Homo sapiens: one gene and its partners. The protein of the gene in region 1 purifies or fractionates together with the protein of each later gene. This does not show direct contact. Each region holds a gene or a part of one and is shown in the gene's direction. Other genes may lie near its edges.

Region 1 (7,447 bases):
TGGGCGAGATGGAGAGATAGCAATGGGGCTAGTGTGAGTCACAGACAGCTGGCAGGCAGAGGGACCAAGGGGCAGAGTACAAGAGGCTGTCTAGGAGGCTGGAGACCCTTGGAGACACCCGAGAGAAACATGGGAGGCCAATGGTGTCCCCAACACAGACACCAGCCACACCAGGCCCAGCAGCCCCACCTGTGCAGTGGTTCAGCACAGTGGTAGTGTTGAGCATGGCAGGGGTAGCAGTCAACGTGTACGTGCCATGGCTGGTGAGGGCACTGGGTGTCTGTCTGTCCTACTGCAGCTGGTCTCACCATGTCCTGCTGACAGGAAACTGGACCTCTGGCAACATCACTGGCTGCACTCAGCCCCAGCTCCCAATATGCCCCCACCTGCCTGCTGGCCCCCACCCTAGGCCTGGTAGGACCTCAACTGCTGACCTTGCCCATAGTGCTGCTGGCCAGTGAGCGGGCCTGGGAAGCAAACTCATGATGTCAGGTTTAAATCCCTGCTTCAGGCAGGAGAATCAGCGCGTGCGGTTCTAGGTACTGAGCCGTGGTCATTTGTTACATCAATTTCGGGAAACATCCTGGCTTCCCAGAGCAGACCCCCGAGGGTGGGGGTCCAAGCAGAGACTGAGGCTGTCACACCCGGTGCTCCCCTACCCAACCTGAGACCCAGGGTCCCCGCTCCGGCCAACACCCTTCCAGAAACAAGGGGACCCGGCCCAACCTCTGCCTCCCACAGACACCAGGGGTCCCAGTGCCTCAATAAAACACCCTGGGGGAGACTGCGCCCTGTTCTCCCGTCCCCTCCCGTCCTGCCACACCCTTCCCCCTCTCCTCCCTCACTCTGCTGCTCAGGATTCTATGAGCCCCAGGATTTCGGGGGTGACCCTCCAGGAGCCAACCCCTCCTGCTGGCTGGAGACCTCGGCCCGCACCAGCCCCTTTGGGAGCCTCGGTTTCCCCTCCTAAGGTGCTGGGCTGAGCAGAGGGAGGGAGGCACAGGTGTGTCTGAGGGTGGGTGGGCAGATGCAGCCCAGCTCCCCTCCCTCCCAGCCCCCTCCCCACGGCTCCAATTAAGGGTCCTCCACGCTCAATCGCTGCATTTGACTTACTGGCGGCCTCGCCTCCCGAACGAGGCCTTTGTTCCCTTAATTGGCCATCTCCAGGCACCATTCTCTGCCCCCCGCCGACGCACGCCAGGTCCATATCCCAGGTCCAACTATGCGCTAATTGGGCACTTAGAGGGCCCCAGAAAGCCCCCTCCCCTCCCTGTTCCCTGCCTTCCTATATTAGCCCCCACCTGCCGCTCCCTCAGACTTCAGGTCGGGCTCCTGGGAGGTGGGGACAGGGTTAGGGCACAGTGGGGAGGCCTTGGCCCAATTCCCAGCCCTGCCTCCTCCCCAGCCCGGGGTGCCTGGGCCTCCAGAGTCCCCTGCCCCTCCCTGCTCACAGATTTGGGGGGTGCTTTGGTCAGCAATATTGTGGGGAGTTACTCCAGACCACCCTGGCCATGCACCCCGGGGTCCCCGAAGGCCCTGGGGTCTCCGAGCCCGGCCCCCGGGAGCTGTGTGCCTTTGTGAGCGGGGCGGCCGCCCACATGCTGCGGGCCCTGCAGCCCCGGCGCACCCGGCCCCCCAAGAGGCGGCCCAACCACAGAAGGTTTCTGCACAACCAGATCTGCAGGTGAGGGGGCTGGTGGGGAAGGTGGGCACGGGACGGGGAAGAGGGGAAGGAGCAACCAGCACCCTTGGCTGGGGGAGACCAGGTACAGACAGAGAGGAGCAGCCCCCAGGGCTGGATGCCAGCAACAGTCAACGTGCATTTATTGAGTGCCTACTGTGTGCCAGGCCAGTTAGCAAAGCAGATAAAGTTCCTTGCTGTCGTGGAGGTTGTGTTTTCATGGGGGTGGCGGACGGTCAGGAATCACCAAAATAAATAACTAGCACGGTGTGATGCGACCACATAGGTGACCCTTGCAAATATGCTGGCCGGGGGTGGTGGCTCAAGCCTGCAATCCCAGCACCTTGAAAGGCCGAGGCAGGAGGATCGCTTGAGTTCAGGCGTTAGAGACCAGCCTGCTCACATCTGTCTTTACAGGCAGTTCACCAAGATTGAGGCTGCCACCCAGCGCCTGGCCCTCTCCATCCTGTCCCAGGAGGCACCTCCCCAGAGACCCTCGCTCCAAAAGCCACCCCCACCGCCTCCATCCCCCTTCCTGGGAGTGGCCTGTGCTGTGGCCCCCACTGAGGCTCCCCATGCCAGCGCCAGCCTGAGTCTCGCTGCCCTGGACACCTCTACCCTCGACCTCTTTGACAACATTGCGCTCACCCCAGAGTGTGCCTCAATGCCATGGGACCCCTCCTCTGGTTCTGATGCTCCCCTGCCAGCGCCGGGTCTGTCCCATCGCGACCTGGGCCAGCTGGACCTGAGGCAGGTCCCACATTTCTGCGGCCCCCTGCCCCTTCCCCAGCATGCCCTGGGGGAAGAGGCTGATCTCGTGGCTCCCGACTGGGGTTGGGTGGACTGCTGGGAGGTGCCTCGTGCCTGGGATTCTCAGGGGATCCCCGAGGGTTGGGGGACCAGCTCCCCATGAGGCCAATCACAACCCAGCCCAGAACCCAGGACAAGCCAGAGGCCCCTCCACGACGGCTCTACAGCCCTCTCCAGGAGCCCCCAACCTGTCCACTCCCTTCCTGGCAGCCCCTGGGAAAATAAACCAACCCAGACCCCCACTTCAGACCACTGCCTCAGGGGTCTCCTCCTGGGCCCAGGGGCCCCACCTCCACCTCTTCTTGCTTTCCTGCCTTCCCCCTTCCTTCTGCCTAGCCCCATCTGGGCATCCACCCCTCACTCTCACCCAGGCTCACCTCTGCCTAATGTCTGCTCTCCTGTCATTTATTCCCAAAGATGTATCGAGCGCCTACTATGGGCCAGGCCCAGGTCTAGGACTTGAGGATTCAGCTGTGAACGAGGCAGACGGGACCCCTGCCTCAGGGAGCTCCCTGTTCTGTGTGCATGTGTGTGTTTTGGCGGGGAACAGACAATAAAAGAGTATATCCATGCATTTTTCAAAAAGCAAGATTCATTTCCAATTCAGATTGGAGTTAGTGCTGAAAAGAAAATAAAACACAAGGCCGGGTGCGGCGGCTCACACCTGTAATCGCAGCACTCTGGGAGGCCAAGGCAGGCGGATCACTTGAGCCCAGGAGTTCAAAACCAGCCTGGGCAACAGAGTGAGACCTCCATCTTTACAAAAAAATTAAAAAATTAGTCAGGTGTGGTGGCGCATACCTGTGGTCCCAGCTACTCAGGAGGCTGAGGTGGGAGGATCGCTTGAGCCCGGGAGGTTGAGGCTGCAGCAAGCTGTGATCGTACCATGGTACTCCAGCCTGGGTGATAGAGCAATTTTTTTCTTTTTTTTGATGTTTCAAAAAAATTAAAAACAGCGACCTGATGGAAGGGCTACCTGACACCAGGTGGTCAGGAAAGGCTTTGAAAGCCTGGAAGGTTGGGCCATGGGGAGTCCTAGGATTCCAGGCTGAGGCAGCACACGTGCAAAGGCCCTGCGGTGGGACATTGAGGGAAGAGCAAGAGGAGACCCCTGTGGCTGGAGCGGAGTGAGCAGGGGGAGTGGTGAGAGGCGAGGTCTGCACGGACCAGGAAGGCCGACCATGAATTGGGAGGAGTTTGGATTTATTCCAAGACAGATAGGAAATTCTCTCTTTCTCTCAACCTCCATTTCCAAGCACAGAGTCTAAATTATTCTAAACACCACCCGAGGAGGCAGGTGCTGTACAGATGGGGAAACTGAGGCAGCACAGAGCGCAAAGGACAGGGGGGCGTCAAATTCCTCACTTGATCGCTCCCTCAGCCAGCCCCTTCCTGGAAAGTGCTTGGGTATCTTTGTAAGCCTCCGTTTCTTGAGAGAGGGCCAGGTTTCGAACCGCAGACATGCCTCTACTCTAGGTAAGACCCCTCTCTCTCTCTCCCGGCCTCGGCGGTCTGCTCTGTGCAATGGGGCCGGCCGAGACGCCCTCTCTCCAGCCAGAGTCTGAGCCTTCGGAGACCACCGCGCGACTCCGCCCCGTCGGCCGCCACTCACGCCCTCTACGGCTCTCCATTGGCAGAACGACCTGCTGCCCCGCCCCCACGGCGCCTTTGCGAGCTAATCATTTTCTTGAGACTGACAGCCTTGCCGGCACCGCCCCCCCTGGGGCGGGAGCAAAGCAGCTGCATATGCGGATTGGTTGAGAGGCAGGGGGCGGGGTGAGTTGGTGAGCGCCGATTGCGGGCAGAGGCAGTGGCACATGCGGATTGGCCGGAGAGAGCGGCGAGGCAGAGCATGATGAGTGTCGATTGGACGGCTGGGCCCAAGTGGGCGGAAAACGGACGGTGCAGGGGGTGGGCCACGTGTCCAGCCCTAACGAAACGGTAACCAGCCCTGGGAAGCCCGCAAGAGGCCTCAGCGGTGGCCGTCCGAGAGCCGAGAGGTGAGGGTGCCCCCGCCTCACCTGCAGAGGGGCCGTTCCGGGCTCGAACCCGGCACCTTCCGGGTAAGTCCTCTCTCGCTGCTGGCGCTATTTGGAGACCGACCTTACCGCCTAGCAGATGGGGAAACTGAGGCTCTGCCTGGGCGTCCCGGGCCAAGGTCACAGGACCAGAAGGAGGACTCCACCTGGCCCCGCCAGAATTGGCTGGCCAGAGATTGGAAGCGTCCCCGGGTCGCGCCTGCCGCCTCTGTAACAGCGCTGGGGGGTGGGCAGGTTTAATCCCCATTTCTCCGACGAGAAAACTGAGGCTAAGACAAAGAGAAACTTGCCCAAGGTCACACAGCCAGGAAGTCCGGGCTCCAAGGCCGGGTTTCCGAGACCGGGTGGGGAAATCAACGGCCCTACCCCGCCCCCTGTTGCCGCCCACCTCCAGCCACGCCCCCTTTGGCCTTGGGTACCCTCCACCCAGGCTGAATCTCTCCTCGTTCCGCAGGACACGCCCAACCCTCTCCAGCCCAGACCTCCCCTTCACATCTCTCTCTCTCACACACCCACCCTCACCCCAATTTTTCATCTCCCAAAAACCAGTTCCCCTCCCCGGGATCCCCTATGAATCTTCAGATCATGCCCCTCGCTCGACCAGAAACTGGGGGCCTTTCTCCCCGACTTTCCCCACCGTCCCAGCTGCCCCTTCCTGACTCTCCCCTGTCCCACTGGGCCCCAGCGCCGACCTCCTGCTCTCTGGCCTTTTGCCTCCAGTTCAACCGCACGGCGGGGGCCTGAAGCCATCTTTGTATTTTGCATTTTGAACACTTTTTCTGGAATAATACCACAAACGCAGAAAATCGAACGGTTTGCAAATACACAGCTTAAATAAATATTTATAAAGGGAGCACCCTGGTGTAAACAAGTATCCAAAGAAAAAAGTCAAACATGCGCCACATCCCAGGATCTCCCGCCGTCGTCGTTTCCATCACTGTGGTCCAAGGGCAGTCACTGTCCTGGCTTCTGACGCCATAGATCAGTTTTGCCGGGTTTTGGCTTTATGCCAACCCTTTATTGTATATAGTATTGACTAGACAACTTGTTGCACATTGTCCAGAATTCAGAAGAAACAGAATAGGACCCAGTGAAAAGGCTCCTACAGACTTCCCCGGTGCCTGGTTCACCCGCCTGAGTCTCCCGTTTCTTGCTTGTTTGCCAGAGATAGCAGATATAGATATAGGCAACACAGACACATTTTCCTCTCCCTTTTTTCTTTGGCACAAAAAGGAGCATTCCATACACACTGTTCTGCTTCTTTTTCACTTCTCTCAAACATGTTTTCGTATTGTTACTTAAAGAGCTTCCTCGTAATTTTTTCTGGCTGCGAGGAATAACAGAGTATAGTTATGGCATGACTTACGTAACCAGTACCCTCATTGTGGACATTGATACTTAACTTCTGCTCCTTTGCTCTGGGGAAGAGTCCTGTAATGAATAATCCTGTGTCGTTTCACATGAATGTCTGTAGGATAAATGCTTAGGAGCAGCTTTTGAGGTCAGAGGGTTTGTGTATCCATCATTTTGAGAAATGCAGCTGCTCGGCTGTCCCTAGGAGTTGTTGTGACCCACACTCCTACCAGGCCAGAGGGGAGTTCCTGGGTGCTCCACATGCCTGTCCTAGGCTTTTGGACATGCTGGCCCCCAGATCTGCCCCTCCATGGCTCCTCACTGCCCTCAGCAGAGAGACTCCAGGGCCCTTGTGACCCACCTGTCAGCTCTCCAGCTCCTGGTTCCCTCAGAACCATCCCTTGGGGCCCGGGTGTCCAGGTCCCGCCTCCTGCACAGGGGAGGAAGAGTTAGCACATGAGTGGCCGTGAGAGGGTCACTCCATGGGGAGGAAACCGCAAGGGCTGTTTGAGAGGAGGGAGTGGCTGGGCTGAGGCTGGAGGGTCTTCAGAGCAGTGCGGGGCGGGGGGGAAAGGGGCGCCTGCATCTTAGTCCTGAGGACAGAGAGAATCCACGGGGGTCAGGGGACAGTTTGAGACAGGGGAGTAATAGCTTTGTGTTTTGTGAAAAGATCATTTTTCTGTCGTCAGTTTCTCTAGGAGAACACTGCAGCCCCTGCCAAGCTGTATCTGACTCCCTCCAAATCCCACTTATCACAGTTGTAATTATGGGATTAATTCACTGTGGTTTTGTTTCAGAGGGAGTTTCCATTCAATTTTATTTAATGAGATAAAATTTGCACAACATAAAATTGACCATTTTAACCATTTATTCGTTTTTAAACTTGAGATATGGTGCACATAGAAAACATTTGCTATGGTAGATGGATTATGTTCAAAGAATAATAGGCCAGGCGCGGTGGCTCACGCTTGTAATCCCAGCATGTTGCAAGGCTGAGGCGGGAGGTTCGCTTGAACCCAGGAGTTCGAGACCAGCCTGGGCAACATAGGAAGACCCTGTCTCTAAAAATATAAAAATACAAAAATTAGCCAGGTGTGGTGGCATACACCTGTAGCTCTAGCTACTTGGGAGGCTGAGGTGGGATGATCACTTGAGCCCAGGAGGTTAAGGATGCAGTGAGCTATGATTGCGCCACTGTACTCCAACCTGGGTGACACTATGAGACCCTGTCTCAAAAAGAAAAAATAGTACAGGGAGGCCAAGGCAGGAGGGTTGCTTGAGGCCAGGACGAGAGAGAGAAAGAAAGACAAGGAACAACAGTGTCCTAACTACCCAGCTTTGAAAATAGCAGCTCAAGGCCAGGTGCGGTGGCTCACACCTGTAATCACCAGCACTTTGGGAGACTGAGGCGGGTGGATCACGAGGTCAGGAGTTCAAGACCAGCCTGGCCAACATGGTGAAACCCCATCTCTACTAAAAATACAAAAATTAGCCAGGCATGGTGGCACAAGCCTGTAATCCCAGCTACTTGGGAGACTGAGGCAGGAGAATCCTTGAACCTGGG
Region 2 (5,194 bases), on another chromosome or scaffold:
GAGGCTCCAGTTGTCCCTCACTGCCCATCTGTGTCTGTGCCAGACGGCACCAGACCCCAGGCACAGCAAACACCTGGGTACAGGTGTGCCCTCAGCAGGGCGGGGACCTCTGCAGCCCTGGTCCCTGAGATGCACCCTGCTGGCCTCTGCCATGTGGCTCTGTCTGCCGGGCCGGGTTCCTTACTGTTCCTTCCTACATCCTGGAGCACCCTGGGTGCAGCCTGCCCTCCGTCCCTGGCTGTGCTGTGAGGAGCCTGCCTGGTGGGGGCCTGGGCTGGAGGCGGGGCCCCTTGGCCAGAAGTCCCTGGGGTCTGCAGCCAGCCTGGCTCCTCCGCAGCCCCACCTCTGGCCTGTGGGCAGGGCCTGTGCCCATCATTGAGGAAAGTGTGCTGGCCACAAGCCCAAAAGCCCAGGAGTGGGCTCGGCCTGGAGCCTGGCTGTGGACCTGCCACTGCCCCTCTGGCTGGGCTCACTGGTAGGCACGCCAGTCCCTCGGTGCCACATGGTGGGTGCTCCCATCTGCCAGTGCTGAGAGCGGGTCAGGCATGTGGAGCCCAGGGCTGCCACCAGCGGGGCAGGAGCCTCCCGGGGACTCGGGCACAGATGCCATCCCCTGGGAAAACGTCGGAGGTCACGCGAGTGCAGATTGGTGAGCAGCGCCCAAGGGCAGAAGGCTGGCAGGGCTGTGGCCTCCCCACATTGTGCTGCCGCTGCCAGGGCTCCACCAGCTCAGAGCAGGGCAGCGTTGCAGCCCGTTTTCCATTCACTCACAGCCTCTCGGGTTCTCTGGATCCGGGACTTGACACTTTATGCTCAGGGTGGGGGACAGAGCCTCACAACACACACCTGGCGGCCTTTGACAGCCCCTGCCTTCTGGGGCTGGAGTTTGGACAGGCTCTCCCCATGGGGCCACCCAGTGGGCAGCGGGTGTGCAGGACAAGCAGACGGGCGCCGGGCGCGCTCCGCAGCCTCATCCATCATGACACGCGCCGTCACCTCGTCACCAAGCTCCGTTCTGCCTCCGGAGCCCTAAAACACCAAAAGGGGCTCGGGACGCGGGCGGTGCTGCTTGGGGAGCCTCGGTGACAAGTGTTCAGTGAGGTGTGCCGCACGCTGCCTGTGCCCGCCGTAATTTGTTTATCTGTCCAAAGATTATGCAGTTGAAAATCCACAATTTTATGCTGCCTTTGTAAATTACCACGCTGCGTTTGATGAATGTTTCTCCACTTCTGCGGAGGCGCCGCTTCACCCGCGAGAGGCGGGAAGGTGCTCATGCATGCGGTGCCGAAGCTTGTTTTCTCATTCTTTCTGGCAGGCGCCCATGCTGGAAAGTAAATCTGACCTTGAGCTTCCCACTGCATTAAAGATAACTCAGTTTTACCTGGATAGTCTCAGATGCTCCAGCTGTGGATATAAAATTCCAGCCCAACCAGAGCCGAGTGCTGACCAGCAGCAAACCCCTTCCGGAGGCGCCCGGAATACAGGCACCTGCTGGGAAGTGCGCACACAGCCGTGAATTACTGTGCACAGATTGCTTTGTGTAGTGGTGTGGAATTCGGTGTCTGTTCTCGTTTGAACACTGAGTTCTAGGTTAATAGAACAGTCAAAAACAAATCAAAGTGGGAAGATTGGAACTAGATGGGCTGCCGCACTCAGAGGAGCACACCTGCACAGAAAGCTGGGGCGCACACACTCCTGTGAACAGGGTCCCCTGCAACTCCCCTGAGAGCCCAGGAGCATGTCCGGGAGAGGGGAGCTTGGGAGCCGGGCCAGCACCCGCGGCTCCCCACGCGACCCCTCCTAGAGGCAGATACCTGTTGTCCAAAAGGGCCAGGGTCAAGGTGCTGAGGCGCTGCCACATCACCAGAGCCTTTGGTCCATGAGCTGGCCTCTCTCTCAGGGGCCAGGCAGGGCGGGTGGCAGAGGCTGGGGAGGTACTGGCAGGGGCCGACATCCCCATCTCTCTGCCCCCACAAAACCCTGATGTTCCTGCCAGTCAGCTCCCAACTGGACCCAGGGTGCCCCACCTCCCCACACTCACCTGTCTGTTTCCCCTTTCCAGTCGGAGAGCGAGGAGAAGGTTGTCACCTATGACCACATTGGGCCCAACGTCTGCATGGGAGACCACAAGGTGACATAGACTGAGGTCCAGGGGCCAGGCTGGGGGACCAAGGGGAAGCTAGGGGGCCGGGGGGCTGGGGCCAGTGGGTGGGCGGGTGCTGGGGCTGGCAGGCAGGTGGGCGGGGGTTGGCCAGTCTCTCCTCTCCTGTTCTCCTGTCTTCTTAGTCTGACTACAGAGTAGGCCAAGTTGGTCTGTTTTTATTTAATTTTAATAAAATATCATAAGCTAGGTGGGTAAGTAGGAAGAAGGCAGAAATGACGTTACAATAGAATAAAATACATAATTTAATATTTGTAAAAAAATGTCCACAGCTGATTGTTTCTGAAGGCTGTTTTGCAAATATGCAGCTTCAGTGTTTTAATGGCCTTCTTGGGGCAGGCTCACTGTCAGCCGAGGAGCCGGGGTGAGGGCGCTCCCCACCGTGTGCCAAGGGGCAGCACTGGCACAGATCGTTTATTCAGGCAACTGCACCTCGAGAGTGTGCACAGGAGACAGATCAAATCTCATTTTCAGCCAATAAATGAGTTAGCTTCTTCCACGTTGGAGGCCCAGAGCTGTGAGCCCCAAACACACCCGGATAAGACGCTGGACCTGCCAGGTGCGGCAGAGCCGAGGACGGGAGAGCCTTCCTTCCCCGCTTCATTTGGGGCCTATTTAGCCATTCTTTTACATCAGTTTTTCCATTAATTTTTTTACCTGGAAATAACACCTTCCTTGCAAAACCTCTCATGGCCGGCCTGGCTCCAGTTCCACATTCACGGGGCCCCCAACCCCTGCGCTGCCGTGGCTGTGCACAAGGGCCGAGCTGCCTCTGCTGGCCATCAGCTCCTCCCAGCCCGGTTCATGGCTGCCCTGGTGAGACGCAGGGTCTGGGGGTGCAACGGGAGGCGGCGGCATGTGCTGTGCTGTCCCGCGTGCGCCGTGCTGACACCGTCCTCTCTTCCTGCTGCAGCCCGTGTTCCTGGCCTTCCGAATCATGCCCGGGGCAGGTAAACCTCATGCCCATGTGCACAAGTGTTGTGTCGTGCAGTGACGTGGTGGTAAATATGACTCCTCCCTCCAGTTCAGCTTTTACGCAGCTTTTCCTGGTGCGTTTGTTCCTTTAACAAATTACGAATTCCGTGACAGGGAAGAGATGCCAGCGCCACGAGAGGACACTTCGTGAGCCTCCCTGTAGCCGTGGACCGAATACGCACTCTTGAAAGCTGCATCGAGAACCCGCCCAAGCGCCACCTGCTAGACGGCCAGCCCCACACTTCGCTTCAGCCTCCGGACCATTCCGGAGCAGCCTCACATACCTCACTGTCTCGTCTGTCTATGTGACATTAAGTAGAAATATTGGTTTTTTTTTTTTTTTTTTAAATAAGTCACAGTCCTGTTGTCAAAACTCTAATAGACAGCAAAGAGGGTCTGTACCGTAGACTTCACAGTTTTCAGTTTTTAATGATTGCCAGTGGAGGGGCTTCTTCAGCACAGAGACCCCCCACTGTGTCCAGGGACCCCCTCTGCCAGGTGGAGGTGTGTCCAGGGGCTGGGGAAGCCGAGACGGGCACTCCCTCTGCCGGCCGGCAGCGTGGCCCTGAGCATGGCAAGGGGGTCTGTCTCTGCCGATGCTCCTTCCGCGGCACTGACTCTGCGCCGTGTCACATGGTTTTTGAATCACACTGCAGCTGCTTTCCATTTTTATATATATATAAATATATATAAATATATACTTTTTAAAAATAATTTATAAATCTTACCAAAACTTATGCTAAATATACTTTCCAGTATGAACGCACAGGAGAGTCCCATCAGCAGGCGGCATTGGAGTCTAGGAGCTCAGCTGTGTGTCCATCAACACACAAATTCGTAAAAAACACACATGGCCTCGCCATCGTGGGTAAAATCGGCCCCACAGCACGTCTGCACCAGCGGGCCGTTACTCCCATGCCGTTCTTCTGTGTAATATTAAGAACTGAATGTGAAGTTTATAGCTAGCCTGGGTGTACCTTTTAAGAATTTTGTAAACCGTTTGTCTGTCTTTTGTTACTGTTTTATGGTGCCAAGTATCCTACGTTACAACAATAATATCATGGGAGAAATAGAAATAGCCTAGTTTGCTTCCAATAGAAACTGCTTTTAACATGGGCTGTATATAAAAATATTAAAGAGAAACAAAACTGTACATTTCCTCATTGCTCCGCTACAGACAACCCATGTCATAACCTTGTTGCAAATATTTTTCTCCTATAGCAGTAAGTACAGCATTAGAAGGTGATTAGAGAGTCTGTTGATGAAACACAAATGTATGTTTTATTGATTTTACTTTAGAACACTACAGAGTTCCTGGACCGGGTGAAGGCATTAGCTGGGTGTTTGTGTGGGATAAATACTACCACTGCAAGTGACTGCTGTCCGCTGCGGAATCTGTTCTTGGTGGAAGCACAGGTCCGTGTCGCTGCTGTGGTTGCCGCTGTCCGCGGTTCAACACGGAGTCCGCCCCGCGGGTTTCAGCTGTTGGTCGTTCTGAGGGGCCTTTGGAAGTGACCGGTCTGGTTCCTAAGCAATAAAATTGACCGTGGTGAAAATAGTCCCGTGTTGCTTTTTCTTCCTTTCCCTTCTCCTGCCACCTTTGAAATGCTAACTCAGGGGAGCGGCCTCCTGTATAGCCTGTTATTTGAGATCAAGCTCATTAGAAATCCTGGAATTTCACTGTATCACACGCTGTCACAAAACACTAAGCCGTTCATTGAGAGGAGAAACACAGCCTTTTGGACTTTCTACTGTAATAAAGGATTTATCCCTCAACATTTTAAAACGGGATTATATCAACGCTTTGCCTTCCTCAAAACTTTAAGAAGCCCCTCTGCTCTGAGCTGAGAGGGGCTCCCCACAGAAAAGCGTTGCTTCTGCCCTTCGAGTTGCTTCCTTGTAAAGAAGGCTGCTAAGAGCCTAAAACAAAACGCGCCGAGTTTAAGCCCTTTCTATTTCCCTTTAACGCTTCCGCAAATGCCAAGAGAAATCGTACCACCGCAGTGATATCATTATTTACATTTAATTTTTAAAAATTAAAACTCAACAGCCACGCCC
Region 3 (7,496 bases), on another chromosome or scaffold:
CTGTGGGGAACCAACAAACACTGCAATGCCTGGCATTGTCACCTCACTAGATTGTGAGTTCCTCTGGGACAGGGTCCGTACATTTTCTTAGAATCCCTCACTTAGCCATTAGCCTGCACAGTGCTTGTACTTAGTAAGTGCTCAGTAAATGTTTGTGGAATGAATGCATGATGAACAAAATATATACTGAGGACTCTTGGTGTTGATTCTTGTTGATAATGTAATAGTTAAGATATGTTATAAATATGTTATAAATATTGTATCAAAATATTGTATCAAAAATATACTTGAACAGGCTGGGCGTGGTGGCTCACACTTGTAATCCCAGCCCTTTAGGAGGCTGAGGTGGGTGGATCACTTGAGGTCAGGAGTTCGAGACCAGACTGGCCAACATGGTAAAACCCCATCTCCACTAAAAAAAAACAAAAGTTAACTGGGCATGGTTGTGGGTGACTGTAATCCCAGCTACTCAGGAGGCTGAGGCAGGAGAATCGCTTGAACCCGGGAGGTAGAGGTTGCAGTGAACCAAGATCGCACCACTGCACTCTAGGGGACAGAGCAAGACGCCTCAAAAAAAAAAATGTATATATATAGTATATACATACACATGAGCATAAAGGAGCTTCAATGTGAAGGTAATAATTTAAGCAACATTTCACATTTTGGACCTGTGTTGTTAGCTATTTAGAACAGTTAAACTACTAGCTTGCTTTTAAATCCATTGTCTTAGTCATTTCAAGTTGTTATAACAAAATACCATACACTGAGTAGTTTATAAACAACAGAATGCATTTCTCTCAATTCTGGAGGCTGGGAAGTCCAAGATCAAGGTGCTGGCAGATTGTGTGTAGTGAAGATCCATTCATCAGAGATGGCACCTTCTCGTTGTGTCCTCACATGGTGGATGGGGCAACAGGCTCTCTTAGGCTTCTTTTATAAGGGCAATAATTCATGAAGTTTCCACACTTATGATAGAATTACCTCCTAGAGGCCCCACTTCCAAATACCATCACCTTGAGGGTTAGGTTTCAACATACAAATTTTGGAGGTACACATTCAGATGATGACAGCACTCATAGGTTACCTTTCATCTTTGGGTTCTCAGTGCCTGCTACAACAGCACAAGAACAGTAAGTGTGTGCTGAATGAATACAGATGAATGAACCTTTCCCCATCCTCAGATACTTCCCAACTGAGCTCCACTATCACCAAACTTCTAGAGCACATTATTTTTTGCCTTATGATCTCGTTAGGTGGGTTTTTCTTGCACATACCACACTAATCCAGTGGTCCTCAAAATTGTGTGCCCATTAGAATCCTCTGGAGGGGTTGTAAAAATAGTTTGCTGGGTCCTAACCCCAGAGTTTCTGATTTAGGAGGTTTGGGATGGGGACACCAAAATTTGCATTTCTAACAAGTCCAGAGGTGATGTTGATACTGCTGGCTACCAACTCTACCTTATAAACCATTGCCCATTAAACTCTTGAGGGTAGAGACTGTCTTCCTCATTTCAGTATCTGCTGAAGCCTCTGGCATAGTACCTGGCACATAGGAGCTGCTAAAGAAGTAGTTGATTGAACAATAGTTCAAAAAAGTTTATTTTACTGAAGCTAGATTACAAGTATATGAATGTGTGTGTATATGTGATTAAATGAGCTATTACATGTAAAAGCTCTTAAAACATGGCACATAGTAAGCTGTTGCTTTAAAAAAAATAAAAAATGTAACCTTTCTTTGCTTATATTCTAAAATGACACCAACCATCCTACATGTGTGCTCTTAAATAGCTTATATATTAGAATAATGGAATCTTAGTACTAAAGGCTGGATGTGGTTGCTCATGCCTGTAATCCCAGCACCTTGGGAAGCCGAGGTGGGTGGATCACTTGAGGTCAGGAGTTCAAGACCAACCTGTTCAATATGGTAAAACCCTGTCTCTACTAAAAATACAAAAATTAGCCCTGCGTGGTGGTGCATGCCTGTAGTCGCAGATACTTAGGAGGCTGAGGCAGGAGAATTGCTTGAACCTGGGAGGTAGAGGTTGCAGTGAGCTGAGAAGATTGTACCACTGCACTCCAGCCTGGGCAAAAGAGACTGTCTAAAAAAAAAAAAAAAAAGTAATCTAGTTAATATTTCAATATTGAGCATCAAGAATTTTTAAAAATTGGTTGAGTGTTTTCTACATGCAGAAAGATACAGCAGAGAGCATAGACACAATCCTTGCCCTCCCAAGCGTATACCCAGCGAGAAAGTGAGAAGCACAGAGTATGTGTAAGCATAAAAATACTAAGTTTTGAGAGTAGACAGCAACTATGAAAATATTCAGTTATATCGATGCAACTCAGTCTTCATTAATTGTTCTCATCGGAGCACATCTTTTTCACATTCTGTAAAGTAACGCTCGGTATGGGCCCAAGGAATATTTAATAAATATTTAAAAATGAAGTTAATAATTGTTTTGAAAGCCATATGGTTGATATTTCTTCTTAAATGTAACCAATAGAAACAACATAAGGAATTTGGCCTGTGCATATATTTGCACATTTATGGTACAGGCATTTACATGGAGGTGCCTGTCATTTGTGACACAGACTTCTCATCAAGTTTCAGAAGGAACAGATGTTTCTAGATGGAATAATATGGAGCTTGCCATTGTAAGAATCCTGTAATAAATCCTTTCATAAAATAAATATATCTGAATTATCTCTTGTTATACATTTTCACTCCTGGATCATCTAAAGTAGAACACAAAGATTGTTCATAAACTATTCATTCAAAACAACTTTATATAAAAAGAATTACTGTTGCTGAATTCTGGATTCTTATTGTTGCTCTTTCTTACTAGCATGGGGTTTGGGACAAGTCACCTTTTTAAATTTTTTTATTTATATTTTCCTAAGTGAATTAACACAGGAAGTCATTCACCTTTCTTTGCCTCAAAGAATTAAATTTATTCTTTGACGCTATTAAGTAAATTAATAGCGTCTACTTCATTGCTCAGTCACTAGCAGTTTCTGAAGTCACTGTCTGGCAGTCAGTAGATATCACCTCTGTAACTAGTCTTGTGCAGCTCTCTGTGATGTGATCTGGTAGAGGACTAAGATACAAAAGCACAAGGGTGAATTCTAGGACCACCTGAGCCAGTGATTAGTTGATGACAAGTCACATAGTCTCTGTGAGCCTGGGTAAAATGAAGAGACTGGATTTGCTCTTGTACCTTCCCAATCCCTGGCTCCACTAGCTGTTGGCCACCTTAGACTTGAAGGTCCATTCACTGCTGCTTGCCCTTGAAGCTCAATTGCTGGTCAGAGCTTTACACTCCTGGGAAGCCAGTCCCCTACCTGGAGGCTGAGCCGGTGACACTGGTTCCACTGGGTCACAGCTGAAGCACCACTGGGGATGGGGCATTTATGTGGCCATGAGTCACACTAGGGTAGGGGTAGAGGGCAAGTCACAGGAAGATTGTTGGGTTTTTTTTTTTTTTTTTTTTTTTTGGCCAGTTTCTTTTCTTTCTTTTTTTATCCCTTTGAAACAGAAGACCATGGCGTACAATCTGGTATCTGCCTTCAGGGTTGGGATAATATCTTTGTTTTACAATACTCAGAGTGGCTGGAAGAAAGCTGAGGCCACAGGTCACTAGCAGGTTCTAAAGTCTGAAAATCCCTGGGAAAATTTGACTTTTTATATGCTAATAATTGAGTACTGACAACTCTGGAGGGAGCTTTCCAATTCTTCCGTCATGAAAGTGGACTTTGTATACTAAAGAGGGGTTCATGGATTCATGGTAACCTACAATTCTTCCTTGCGGCCTGAACCAAAGGAATAGCAGCTACAGTTGGGTTTTCCTAAAAGGAGTAAGATAGTCCCAGGCCTCCCTTCTCAAATAAGTGTATCAAGCAGGTGGACTCTGCCAGTCGGGGGTCCCGGTCAATCCCTAGGGCCCTGGGGCGCCATGGGCCTCGTGGGAGGGCTGCGCATCCCAACCATGCCTTCGTCTCCTGGTGGGGCACCGGCGGTACGTCCGATCCTCCAGCCCGCGTGGTCAGGCGGCCGCGGGCCCAAGCATTTCCCAGGGCCCAAGCATTTCATTCATTTATTCATTCACGCAGCAGGTATTTCCCGGGCGCCCTCCTCCTGTGTAGGTGACAGAAACTGGGTGGCGAGCGAGCCAGGCAAAGCCCGGCTTCCCTGAAGCTCCCCGCAGCGGCGGGGGCGGAGAAGAGACCTCAGCCCCGCGGGCTCGCACAGCTGGCGCGGACCACGCTCTCGCCCGGGGCCGGCGGCCTCAGCGCCCCCCGAATGAACACCTTCCGCCCGCTGGCCGCCCCGCGAGGCGGGCCGTGTCGTGGCCCCGGTGCACGGAGGGGGACGCCGAGGCCCGGAGCAGGGCCCGTCTCGGCCTGTGCTCGGAGCCAGGCGGCAGGGCCCGCGGGCCGGCGGGCGGCGCGGAGACGGCTGCGCTCCCGCCCTCCGCCAGCGCCTGGCGGCCGCCCCACGTGACGGGAAGCGGCGGCTGCGGGGTCGGGCCAGCCCAGGAGCCGCGGGCCGGAGCGGGGCGGCGGGGCCCCAGGCCGCGGGGCGGCGCGGGACGGCGGGCGCCGGCGCCGGTGAGTGAGGAGGGCGGCGGGGCGCGGGGTGCGGGGCTCAGGGCGCGGGGCGCGTGGGGCAGGAGGGCGGGGAGCAGGAGTGGGGGGTAGGCGGCGGGGCGGGGTGGAGGGCGAGCCCGTGCGTGTGCGCTGGGGCAGGTGTAGTGGGGGCTGGAACGCGGGGTGGGGGGAGCAAGTGGCTATACACTTGGGGGCAGGTGTGCGGGTGTGCGACTTGGTAGCTGTCCCTTGTGGGGGCCGGCTAGCCTGCTGGGGTGAGCAAATAAGTGTTCACGTGTGTGTGGGATGAAGTGTGCACGGGTGTGGGGTCAAGTGTGTATGTTGTGTGTGAGGAGTGCGTGTGTGTTTAGGGCAAGGGAAGACCTGAGAGACCTCGTCCTTGATTTGGGTTTTCCGGGGAGAAGGGCCAGGAAGGACTTGCACCTCCATCCCTGGTATGGAATGGTTTTGGCGCTGTGATTGAGGTTTCTGGGAGCTCTTTGGATTTGAGAGCTCAAATTCGGGTCACACTCAGGCCTGAATTGTCCTGATCTGGAGAGTAGGCAGGGGTGTGTTGGGGAGTAGGGAAAAGTGCTGTGCTGGGCTTCCTGGCCCCTGTTTTTAGCACCAGGTCAAGGGCTGGAAGCTGTCATCCCTGTGGAATTGTTTTCTTTCCATTGCCTTCTGGAGGTGCAGGTGCAAGTTAGTCCGCCTGCCTCCCTGTGTTAAGTGTTGATATCCTTAAACACGGAAGCTGTCCGGTTGTCTGCACCTGCCGTGGCTTCTACCCAAGGACTGTTGAGTGACCCTCAGGAAGCCTCCTACCTGGCTGCTAAAAATGGGGGCTCACAGATCACACAGCAGGCCTTACTGCACGTGGACTGCACGCGCAGCTGTGGTCAAAACATGTCTGAGCAGAGTTTAATCACTGATGAAGTGCTCATGGGCAAGCACCTTGTCTATCAGGAAGGAAGGCAGCTGCGGGTGTGATTGTGGTGGCAAGTTAAGGCACTGAGAAGGTGTGCAGGGAAGATCCTACTGCGTTGTGTGTGTTGGCTTGGTTGGAGTCAGGATGAACGAATGTAGAGGGACTGTGTGGTGGCTGCTACTCTCTCATGGTGGACATGCTTCTCTCTGTTGGTCAGCCGGAAGCTGGCAGACAACTGAGAGCTCGCAGTTCCATGGTCAGTCAGAAGGAACATTTGGTCAGCTGCTTCCTTTTCTTTTTCCTTCCATTTCTGCCAGCCGAGCAGCCTCAACAGTCATTGCAGCTGCTTCTGTGATGTGTAGCAAAACGCTGCCTGGAGTACTAGAAAGTCTACTGGCTGGAATCTGCTGGAACCTGTCCATAACTAGCCTGCCCCAGGTCATCTATGAAATGGGAGTGATGCTCTGTGGTGGTAATGAATGTGGAGTGTGGGTTCAAATCCTGCCTCTGCCATTTCCTGTGACCTTTGGGCAATTTGCTGGACATTCTGAGTCTCAAATTCCTCCATCAAAATAGGGATAATATTAGAAAAGGCACATGAATTCTAATAAGAAATTGTGCCTGGAAAGGATCCGGCACAGGGTCTGGCATTTAGTAGGTGCTCAATAAATTATTGCTGACAAATATAAATGAGGATGTAGAGCCAGGTCTCCCTCAGCTCTGAAAATATGTAGTTTTATGTTTTGAGTAATTGTTAACCTAACAAATGATTTACTCTGGAGTTAGACTTGTGGGTTCTGAATTCCAATTTGCTATGTGCATCAAGGTTTGCATTACACAATTGAATTGGGTGAGAGGTGAGGTGCCACTGTTAGCCTTCATTCACTCTGCCTTTTCTTCTACACTCATGATTGTGCATGGCAGTCCTCTTGTCATAGCATTGGAGGCAGAGCGTTTTCACCACTGCAGGAATCCCAGGACCAATCTAACCTCAGCTTAAACCCTCCAGAGACAGGGATTTGTAAAGGGCCCATTCTTCATTTAGGCAGCTCCAGTTGAGGAGTTTTAAAAGCATAGAGCTCACTATTTTAAAAATGCTATATTTTCTTTTTGTTGTTGTCTTCTGGGTGGTTTTTTTGCTGTTGTTTTTGAGACAGGGTCTTGCTCTGTCACCCAGGCTGGAGTGCAGTGGTGTGACCATGGCTCACTGCAGTCTTGATCTCCCAGACTCAAGGGATCCTCCCACCTCAGCCTCTCAAGTAGCTGGGACCACAGGCTCGCACTACCACACCCAGATAATTTAAAAAATTTTTTTTGTAGAGATAGGGGTCTCCCTGTGTTGCCCAGGCTGTTCTCAAACTCCTGGCCTCAAGCAATCCTCCTGTCTTGGCCTCCCAAAGTGCTGGGATTACAGACCTGAGCCGCTGCGCCCAGCCAAAAAACTTGCTGTATTTTCTGGGTCTGATATGCAGCTAACATTTCTGTTAGGAAAAAAAAAATGAAGTTATTTGGCTTATTCCTTCATGCTAATATTACAAATTTGTGATCTTTTAAGAAAACTTGAAGAAATTTTACTTAATGGGTTAAGTGTCTTCATCTTGGTCTGAATCCAGCCCTCATTAGAAATACATTAAAGTAGTCATTTGTGGCAGCCAGGTGTTTGGATACTGCCGAATAATTTGGCTCAGACTTTACAACTCATCTCTGTAGCAAACCTGACTCGTTTTTCTTTATTTAAAAAAATAAATACCTACTAAATGAATGTAGAGTAACAACTTAATTTGGTGCTACCCCAAATGACTTTAAGTGCCTCATGAAAAGTGAATTATGAAATCTTGCAGATGATTTGAAATCAAGATCTTTTCTTGATAGTCAAGTAACTGCTGTTGAAAAAGTTAAAGATTTAAGGAAAAAATCACATATTTAAAGATGACAACTGACTGGATATTATGGACTATCAAGTCCTGTAGGTACTCAATAAT

The links.
Region 2: the proteins of ISOC2 (region 1) and INPP5A purify together in Homo sapiens (affinity purification with mass spectrometry; 2 studies listed by BioGRID and IntAct, with this or other methods). This does not show direct contact.
Region 3: the proteins of ISOC2 (region 1) and TGFBRAP1 purify together in Homo sapiens (co-immunoprecipitation; 3 studies listed by BioGRID and IntAct, with this or other methods). This does not show direct contact.

What each region holds. Positions count from the first base shown.
Region 1 is NC_000019.10:55,458,619-55,466,065, reverse strand, and holds the start of ISOC2 (isochorismatase domain-containing protein 2), read left to right. Parts: upstream 1-4,423; 5' UTR 4,424-4,554; intron 4,555-7,447. Other genes in the region: uncharacterized protein C19orf85, read left to right, coding at 1,512-1,684, 2,099-2,594.
Region 2 is NC_000010.11:132,778,787-132,783,980, forward strand, and holds the end of INPP5A (inositol polyphosphate-5-phosphatase A), read left to right. Parts: intron 1-2,062; coding exon 2,063-2,131; intron 2,132-3,074; coding exon 3,075-3,155; 3' UTR 3,156-3,162; intron 3,163-3,250; 3' UTR 3,251-4,694; downstream 4,695-5,194. UniProt on the Homo sapiens protein: Phosphatase that specifically hydrolyzes the 5-phosphate of inositol 1,4,5-trisphosphate to inositol 1,4-bisphosphate, and inositol 1,3,4,5-tetrasphosphate to inositol 1,3,4-trisphosphate. Plays a crucial role in the survival of cerebellar Purkinje cells.
Region 3 is NC_000002.12:105,326,736-105,334,231, reverse strand, and holds the start of TGFBRAP1 (transforming growth factor-beta receptor-associated protein 1), read left to right. Parts: upstream 1-4,496; 5' UTR 4,497-4,607; intron 4,608-7,496. UniProt on the Homo sapiens protein: Plays a role in the TGF-beta/activin signaling pathway. It associates with inactive heteromeric TGF-beta and activin receptor complexes, mainly through the type II receptor, and is released upon activation of signaling.